2 separate regions of the Homo sapiens genome follow, and region 2 is linked to region 1. Evidence: fine-mapped expression QTL. Tissue or cell type: prefrontal cortex. Region 1 holds a variant in brackets; the other region holds the start of a gene. All regions are shown on one strand. Distances are from middle to middle.

Evidence for each region. PIP is the estimated chance that this variant, and not a neighbour inherited with it, causes the effect.
Region 2: it holds the start of ALX4, and the variant in region 1 is the best candidate, but not a certain one, in a credible set for the expression of ALX4 in prefrontal cortex (CommonMind, PIP 0.68).

Annotation. Positions count from the first base shown.
Region 1 is chr11:44,225,002-44,229,001 of GRCh38, forward strand. The region is part of intron 10 of EXT2 (exostosin glycosyltransferase 2); the gene reads left to right. Among named protein-coding and RNA genes, the nearest start is that of ALX4, 83 kb to the right of the region's middle. The variant G/C (reference allele first, on the strand shown) is at 2,275.
Region 2 is chr11:44,307,882-44,312,394 of GRCh38, forward strand. ALX4 (ALX homeobox 4) reads right to left here and starts at 2,258. Exons shown (of 4, transcript NM_021926.4): 1 at 1,716-2,258. The coding sequence starts at 2,181. RefSeq lists an enhancer at 2,236-3,164.

The sequences.
Region 1 (4,000 bases):
GCAATCTCCTGAGATTAGACTTAGAAATAGTATGACCCACACTGGAGCTGAGGTTATGGAAATAAAAGTGATTTCATCTTTACTGGGTCTTAGGGAGCACAGAATTAGAAAACCCACGACCTGATCCTGACCCATCTCTTCCTCCTCCTCCCATCCCCTCAAACTCTCATCTCTCCTTCCCTTCTTATTATCTCCCAAGAGATTCATTGCCTCATGAAAAATAGTATTTGGGGTTAATCTTTCATTTAGCTGCTTTTTGCTTGTGTTTCCTTCTCTGCCTCAGAGCCTCACAGATTACGAGGTTCCAGTAGGCCCTCAGATGTCAGATGTGGAGTCTCACTAGTTTGCTGCACAGCTGACTGGAGTTCTTTCTTTTAATGGTGTGAGCATATGGCTTTCTTTGCTAGATGGAAACCACATTCACAAAGAGCCTGTAGCTTTTAGAAATGAAGACTGATGGGAGCAAAGGGTTTTTTCGTGTTCCCTGCCTCCTCTCCCTACCTGGTTCTATTCTGAATCTGGTCATTCAGCAGGCACCTGTGACCCTCTTCATATCTGCCACTGGCACCACAGAGCTGAAGAACATTGACCCTGAATGTCGTTTTTGACATCATAATCTGACTTCTTTGTTTTCAGGTGAGGGGCTGAGCTTGGGGACAATAAGGTGCTTTTTAGAATTAGCATAGTAGGAAGTCAGATGACTTCATGAATAGAAGATTGGACTGGGAGTTCGGGCCAATTTAGACTTGACCCAGCACTGTAACCTTGGGAGAACCATGTCTCTCCAGGTCTCAGTTTTCTCATCTGTGCAATGAGGGAACTGGACCAAGTCACCTCTGCCTTCTACATGATCTCTGAGGTTGCAGATCTCTGAGATAGCTTGGACAGTGGTCATCAGCTCCAACTGCCAAAGTGTGAGTCTTCTTATTATCCACAGAAGGCTCATGGTTATGCTGTCCAGTGAGCTGGTACAGATACAAGGATGAGGCACATGTTTAAAGACACTTTCTTTGGCAGTATCTTCCTAGTAGTGGTAATTATTGAAAGATTTAATGGCACAGATTTTTTTATCAACTATGGCCAACCCCAGTCTGTCTCTTTGCCATCTTCATGGCACCTGGCCTTAAAAAATAACTTGCAAAGAATGGAGATCAGGTGCCCCAGTACCAAGGTACCAACCTCTAGCCAGACTGGAGCAAATGGGAATGCTGCCCAAACCCCAGAAGCCTGCCCATGTAATTGGTTTTCCTGCGTGGCTTATTTTAAGCAAGCTCCTGCCTGGGGTTGGGAAGGTCTCTCGGACAGACTAAAGTGATCTCACAGGTAAATCTTAATCCATAATGCAGTTTGTCCATGTGTTTGTCAAAACTAGTCAGCATTAGGGAACTCTACATGACAACTTCTGGGCTCCTTGGCTGTAGATGGCTAGTATCAGCATTGAATTGTGTCCCAGGAGTGAATGAAGGCTCCTTGGCTTTTCTCAAAGCACATCCTTGACAAAAACTGCCAACTACCACTGTAGTTAAAAGCATAAGCTGAAAATGAAGGCAGTCAGTCCCTCCATTCCACTTCATTTCAGGAAATTCCAAAAATAAAAGGTGAGCTTTGTTCCCAGAGGGCTGAGAGTGAATCCTATAACTGGCTCCTCTGTGGAAACCAGCTCGGAATTGGAAGCCAGCCAGCTGCCCCTTTCCCATCTGGGCAGCATGCAAGACGAAGCCTGAAGGGAAGAAGGGCCACTAATTCAAAGATGCTTTTGCATATTGGATTCCTTGTGCTCTGTCTTGGCTGACCCAGCCATGTGACAGCAAGGTTTGAGCTGGTTCATAGAGCTCTGTTGCACTTTAATGGTTAAGGATTGACCAAACTCAGGCAGTGTGTGCAAGGAAGGAAATGAAGCCATTGCCAAATTTGATGTGCCTTGGATCTATAGACTGCACCCCCAATTCCATTTCTCTCACTACTTCTTAGTCTGTCTCTTGGTTCATGAGTCCTGATACATTGCTCACCCAGTAGCAATATCCCTGTGGAACTGTGCCTTTGACAGTGTGATGACTGTAGAAGCCACTTCAGAGTGGCTTTTCTCCTAGTGCTGGCCCGTGATTTCATAACTGAACGTCCCAGATGGGCACCACCTGTTGTTACACCTTCCCCCTTCTCCCCCTAGTCTGTTTCCGGAATCTGACTGCGGTTAGCACACACCCTGAGTTTAAAATGCACTCTCTAAGCTGGCTTAGAAGGTAGTGCATTAACTTCTTTTTAGGACCATTTATT[G/C]GGTACTTCTATGTGTATGGCATTTTAAACAAAGTTAGATAATGCAGCCCATGCTGTTTAGAAACTTACAACTTGAAACAGATCACAATTGGTGGGTTAGTTCCCTGGGAACAGGTCAGTGAGGAGGAAGATAAAAAATCTCAGCTGTTAAAGGACATCAGAATTCACTTAATCCAATCCCTTATTTTATAGATGGCAAAATGGAAGCAAGACACCTTGAATAGGTCAGTTGCACAATGCACTAGTGGCAGAGCTTCCTGGACCTACTTTAACCATGTGCCTCTGGTCCACTTTCTATAGGATGTGAGACTCAATCTAGGCTGCCCCCTGTGGGCTTTTACACAAAGGTAGAAGATATTTGTTTGATCCTATCTATAGTAATGGGACACGACAAAAGACCTCAGGAGGCTCAAGAAAGAAGAACTTGGAAAATGGCCAAGTAAGCATAGCTGAGAATCTAGAGAGCAGAACATTTCCATAATCAGGTAAGAGGTGTTGAGGACCAACAGGTAAGAGGTGTTGAGGATCCTTCACTAGAATGTAAGCTCCTTGGGAGAAGTCTCCTTGAATACCTTGTCCATCACTTTAACCCCAGTACCTGGAAGAGTGTCCAGCATAAAGGTTGGGTTAATAAACATCTCAAGTCTGATGGAAGCCTATGAATGCTTACTATGCAACTTCACACAATCCTTACAACAGCCCTATGATGTAAATATAAAAATTAGAATGGAAAGAAACAGTTGGAGGACGTTCTTACATTGTTACAATCCCCATTTGACTAGTGGTGTGGGATAGCCACAAATGGAAGGACTATCCAAATTATTGCTAAGTCCCTAACTTAGGCATAGAGTTTTTTATAACAGAGATAGGCTTCTGTCCCCAAAGATGCGTGCAATTTAAAATAGATGGGGGCACTATATATATGGAGGATTTCAACAGTATAGACAATTTAATATTGACTTTGTGAATAATATAACTGTGGAAGCACTGTTACTGGAACTCCAGGGATATTCTGTGAAGTTTCAAATGCCCACACCACAATATATAAAGGCATTTGGTAGTAATGACAAAAGGCTTACCCAGAGCATTTCCCCAAGGTAAAAGGAAAAAAGTTGAATTAGAGTAGGGGTGGGTAGCCATGAAGAGACAGGGTAGAGTTTGAGCTCTTGCTCGTCTGGCTGGGAAAATGCTTTACTGTATACATAATCGACTTCGTACTACACTAGGGCTCAATTAGAGAGGGCCCATCCCATTCTGTTTCACTCCGTTTTGATCCTGTAGTCAGCTGCAGAGTTATAGATTAAGTGACAAGGATGGTATCTTGATTGTATCCAGCTGCTTGGAATCAGTCAAGGGCTGAGAGGCCCCGCATGAGGAACAGCGCTCACTATAAAGGCTCCAAAGCAACCTGAAATTCAGGACACCTCTGATGCCTTTTAGAGCAGCATAGTTTAGTATCTGACCCATTGTCACCAAATTAAGTCCCTGAGAGGAGTCTGATAAGTGATTTCAGCCAACAGTAAGAGGACCGAAATCTTAACAGCATTGGACTTGACAACTGAGCCAATAATAGTAATAATGTAATTATTATGGCTGCAAAAGTGGGGCTTGTAAAGAAGAATCCCTAGGGAAAGCGATTTGAACTTTTCTTAGCATGGAGGAGAGAGCTGTGTTGACTCAAAGTAAACAGGGGGAGAAAAGCAACTTCCATCTTCAGCAGAAGTGC
Region 2 (4,513 bases), 83 kb after region 1:
CTGTGGGTGTCCGTGTGTGGAGCTGTGGGTGTCTGTGTGTGGAGCAGTGGGTGTCTGTGTGTGGAACTGTGTGTGCCTGCATGTGGAGCTGTGGGTGTCTGTGTGTGGAGCCTTGGGGGTCTGTGATCTGAATGCCTGATCTCATTCCAACTGGAGGTGAAGAGGAAGGTGGAGGAAGTGGGGAAGGGCCACTGAATCTTTCTAAATCTTCTCTCAGTTCTGTCCTATGGGTTTGGGAGTATGTGGCTCATTCGAGGCCACATGGGCATGTGTTCTTGGGGTATGACCACATCGGCTCCTAAAGAAGATGCTCTCTGCGTGTGTGTGTGTAGAGTGCAATTGTAGACAAGCATATGACTGTGAATGTTTGTCAGCAGCCATCTATGAACTAGTTCTGCGCCTGTGAAAGAAGGAACCTGAATACGAGAAAATATCTGCCATCGGCTGTTTTCCCAAAGTTATTCTAGCCACCAAGGCCTCCGCCGTGTCCCAGCCTCTGTCCCCAGGCCTAGTGCCTCTCCATCAGCCTGGATCAGGGCAAATTCCCTGCCCCCAACTCTTCCCACCAGGGCCGGACCTGAAGGCCAAGGCCTCCGGGTATGTGCTCAGGACTCCTGGCCCAGAGAAGGTTTTTCCCTTTCTGCGTCTTTGCTTCCCCTTCCGCTTTGGGGTTCAGGAACCCCGATTCTCTGGAAGAAGAGAAGGCCTAGGCTACTGAGCTGCTCTGGCTAGAGACGTCCTTGAGTGTCTCTCTCTCCCGGGCAATGGTGGCTGTGCTCTGGGGGGCCCAGGCCTGCCTCCTGTGGCTGCGTTCAAGGCAGCTTGGAGGTCATTTAGGCCAGCTCCCCCGGGTTCCCCGTGGGCTCAAATCAGGACCCAGACCCTTCTCTCTTGCCACAGCTCTGGGCCACCTGGGACTCGGGACTTCCTGTCTCCCTTCCTACTCTGTCCTAAACCATTGTTCAGAGGCCTGCCGCCTCCAAGAATCGCCGAGGGAGAAGCTCCAGGGGAACTGGCCTGCCCGCATCCCCACTGCCAGTAGCGCTCAGGGTCCCAGGACTCGGGTCTTGCCAGACCACAGTGTCCCCTGGGACCCTAGGGTCTCTGGCTCCGCACTGTGTTGCGCCAGTGCGCCTGGATTTCCCGTGAGCTTTCGGCCAACCACGCTCCGGGCTTCCCGCCTGGCTCCGCACCTGCGGCGCTCTCACCTGCGGCGGCGCCGCCCGAGGAGCCTCCCAGCCGGCGAGGAGCGAGGCTTCTGCAGTCCTGCTGTCCCGCAGCCCCGCAGCCCCGCAGCCTCGCAGCCCCGCAGCCCCGCAGCCCCGCAGCCCCGCAGCCCCGCAGCCCAGCGCCAGAGCGCTGCGCGGAGACTCCTTGCCGCCGCACGCCCTGGGCCGGTAAGAAGCATCCGCTTCAAATCCCGCCCAGCGGGCAGCGCAAAGCGAGCGGTTTGGGGAAATGCCGAAGGGACCGGGAAAAACAAACTCCAAGTCGAGTTTAACAGCCGAAACGCTCCGTGCCTAGGCCGGCGGACAAGAAGGAGACAGAACAGATCCCTTGGCTCCCTCGCAGCGATCGATCCCGTTTACCGACCAGAGTCACCACCCCGCCCCCAGCCCGCCAACTCATACCTCCCGCAAGCCACCAGTTTCAAGGGATGCGGAAGCCAAGCACCCCGTGGTCCCCAGCACCAGGTGACCCGCACGTGCACTCACCGTAGCAGGGAACCTGCAAGGCCGCGCTGTGGCCGCTGCTGCCTTCCTGGAGTTTGAGGCTGCCGTCCGGGGGCGTCTTGCAGGCGCCTCGCTGCAAGTAAAGATGCGGTTGCGCGGGCGGCTGGGGCTGCGGCTGCTGCTGCTGCGGCTGCGGCTGCGGCGGCGGCTGGGGCTGCGGGGTCGACGGCTGGGGCTGGAACTTGTTAAAGGAGCCCCGCGCCCCAGCTCCACTCTCCAGGGGTGTCGCCAGGTCCTGCTGCCCAGCGCCGTAACGGGCCCGGCTCTTGGCGTCCCCGAATCCCTGTGCTTTGGCGGCGGCCGACAGGAAAGTTGTGCCGAACTTGTCGCCTCCGGGAAATGCCCTAAAAGGCGACGAGCCCTCCCGACTCTGCGACACCGGGCTGTAGTAGGCGTCCATGGCAGCGGCCGGCGACTCGCAGTAAGAGACGCAAGTCTCAGCATTCATGCCTGGCTTGCGCAGGCGGCGGGCGGGGACGCGAGCGAGGGCGCGAGGACGCCACCGCGCGCCTTGGCTGGGAGTTTGGGGAGGCGAGGAGGCTGTGGCTGTGCACTCCTTGCCCGGCCTGCTCGCTCTCCCTCCTCCCCTCCACGCCGGCCTCTCTCTCTCTCCCCCTCTTCTTTCTCTGTCTCTCTCCTCTCTCTCCCTCCTCTCTCTCTCTTCCCCTCCCTCCCCCCCCCTTCCTCTCTCTCTCCCTCTCTCTCTTTCCTCCCTCCCCACAGCTAGCCGAGGGAAAGAACGGAGGGCAGTAAAAAGATTCAGATGTTTCGGAAAGTTGACCAGATCTCCCAAACCCTCTTAAGGTTTTGCAGCGGAAAAAAAAAATAAGTAAATTTTTTTCCCTGCCTTGCTTCTTCCTTTCCCCCTCTCTCGTCCCCTCCTCCTCTCTCCTTCCACTGGCCCCTGCCCCCTCCTCTCCACTCTTAAGGAGATGCTACTAACTCGCTAGCGGGGATTCAACCCGGAGGCGCCCGAGGGCTTTTCCGATTCTAGGCGGGGCTGGGGAGATGCCAGGATCCCCAGGGCTCCCGAGGCTAGGCTGAGAATTGGCGGGGTGTCGGAGCTTTGCCTTAGGGCAAAGGGAAATGCAAATTTTAATGACAGGTTAAAAAAAAGCCCCCCAAAATAAACCTAACAGGTTTTGACATTCGAAGCCAGGGGGACCACGGGCCTGCGGATGCAAGCGAGTCCTACGGACTCCTGCGCGCGAGCTCGCGGGCGCCGCTGCGGGCCTTCCCGCTGGCACCTTTTCCTAGGTTTCCAACCTTCCTCCCCATTCCCGTTCCTACGGGAGATTAACACACACACAAGCCTTCGTCGTCCAGTGCATGGTCACTTGCACGTCTTGTTAACTATTTCCCTCTGCTGTAAGGGCGCTGGGCTGGGATGTAGCGGAATCTGTGCTCCCTCAAGCCCTGGAGAAGCCCTGGGCTGGGCCCGGCTTCAGAAGCTTTAGAGCGCTGCCCTCTGCGCTCCCGTCTAGAGGCCGCACCGTTCACGCCCCACGTCTGCGCCCAGGCGAGGGGATTTCCTGCCAGGCGAAGTACAGAGAGCGGACTCTGGAGACCCCCTGACCTTGCCCGATAGTCGCGCTGTCACCTGTTCACTCCTTGGGGTCAGGGGTCGGGGAGAGGGGTGAGACCGTCTCTTCCCTTTCTGGCCTCACTGCCCCCGACTGTAAAACGAACTGCTTGGTTTTGATAGGTTGTGGTTTCACCACCACTGCGAGCCTCAAGGCCCCTGGCACCGCCACAGCAAGGGAAAAAACTTTGCGCGTGCAGCCCCTCGATTTCGCTTCATGACAACCGTGCTAGAGATTGGCGCCCCCAATTTTCTGATGAGCTAACGGAGGCTCAGAGAGGGGCGGCCACCTGGTCCAGGTCACACAGCTGGGAAATAGCCGTCGCGCCCTGGAACCTCTGCTCAGGCTAGTCCCTCCACCGACCTGGAAGGCCGTGCGGACAGCGTAGATGCAGAGGGGAAACTGGCCCCCGGCTGTGGAATGGTTCAAGTTGAAGGAGACCAGCGAGAGCAGCCTTCCTTAAACCGCTGAGAAAATCGTTAAGCGAGAACGTACCTCTAGGGAGTCTGGGAGTAGGGTGAGAGGTAAAAGTGCAAGGTAAAATTAAAGAGGGCCTGAGCACCGTGAACCAAGGAATGTGGGTCAGATGTCAACTTTCTGCATCTAAGGTCTCCCAAAGAAAAAATATACCTGGGGGGTCGCGCTTCTGCTCCCAATCTCATCTGGGCTAATTCTTACCCCCACCCTACCCCCTTAGTATCTCTGGTCCTTGCTCCGCCGCCGACCGCGCGATCCCACATCTGGTTTCCATCGCCGGCTTACCTTGAAGTGCTCGTTAATAAAGATATTCCGCAAACCAAGCCAGGAGCGCGCAGGCTCCAGCCGCCCCCCACTCCATGCCCAATGGGAACCGCGCCTCACTGGCCCGCAGACCTAAGCCACTTGAGAGTCCTTTATTTATTGAGCTCCTGTTGTGCCAACAATCTGGCAATACAAGGCTTATCATACCCATTTTGCATATGGGTAGACTGAGACTCAACCAAAATAATTTTCCAGTTAGCAAAAAGCGGAGTGCTCCTGCCATCATCCTAAATGCTCCTGTCCAGCGGTTTCTTCAAGTTCCTAGAACCTGCCAAGGTCTCTAGCCTGTGCACTGTAGCATAGGTGGTTTCCCCTACCTGGAATTCCCTAAACTCATTCCTGCACTTTTGTCTGGCTAATGATTCAGAGTTCAGCCTAGAGCATCTTCCTCTAGGA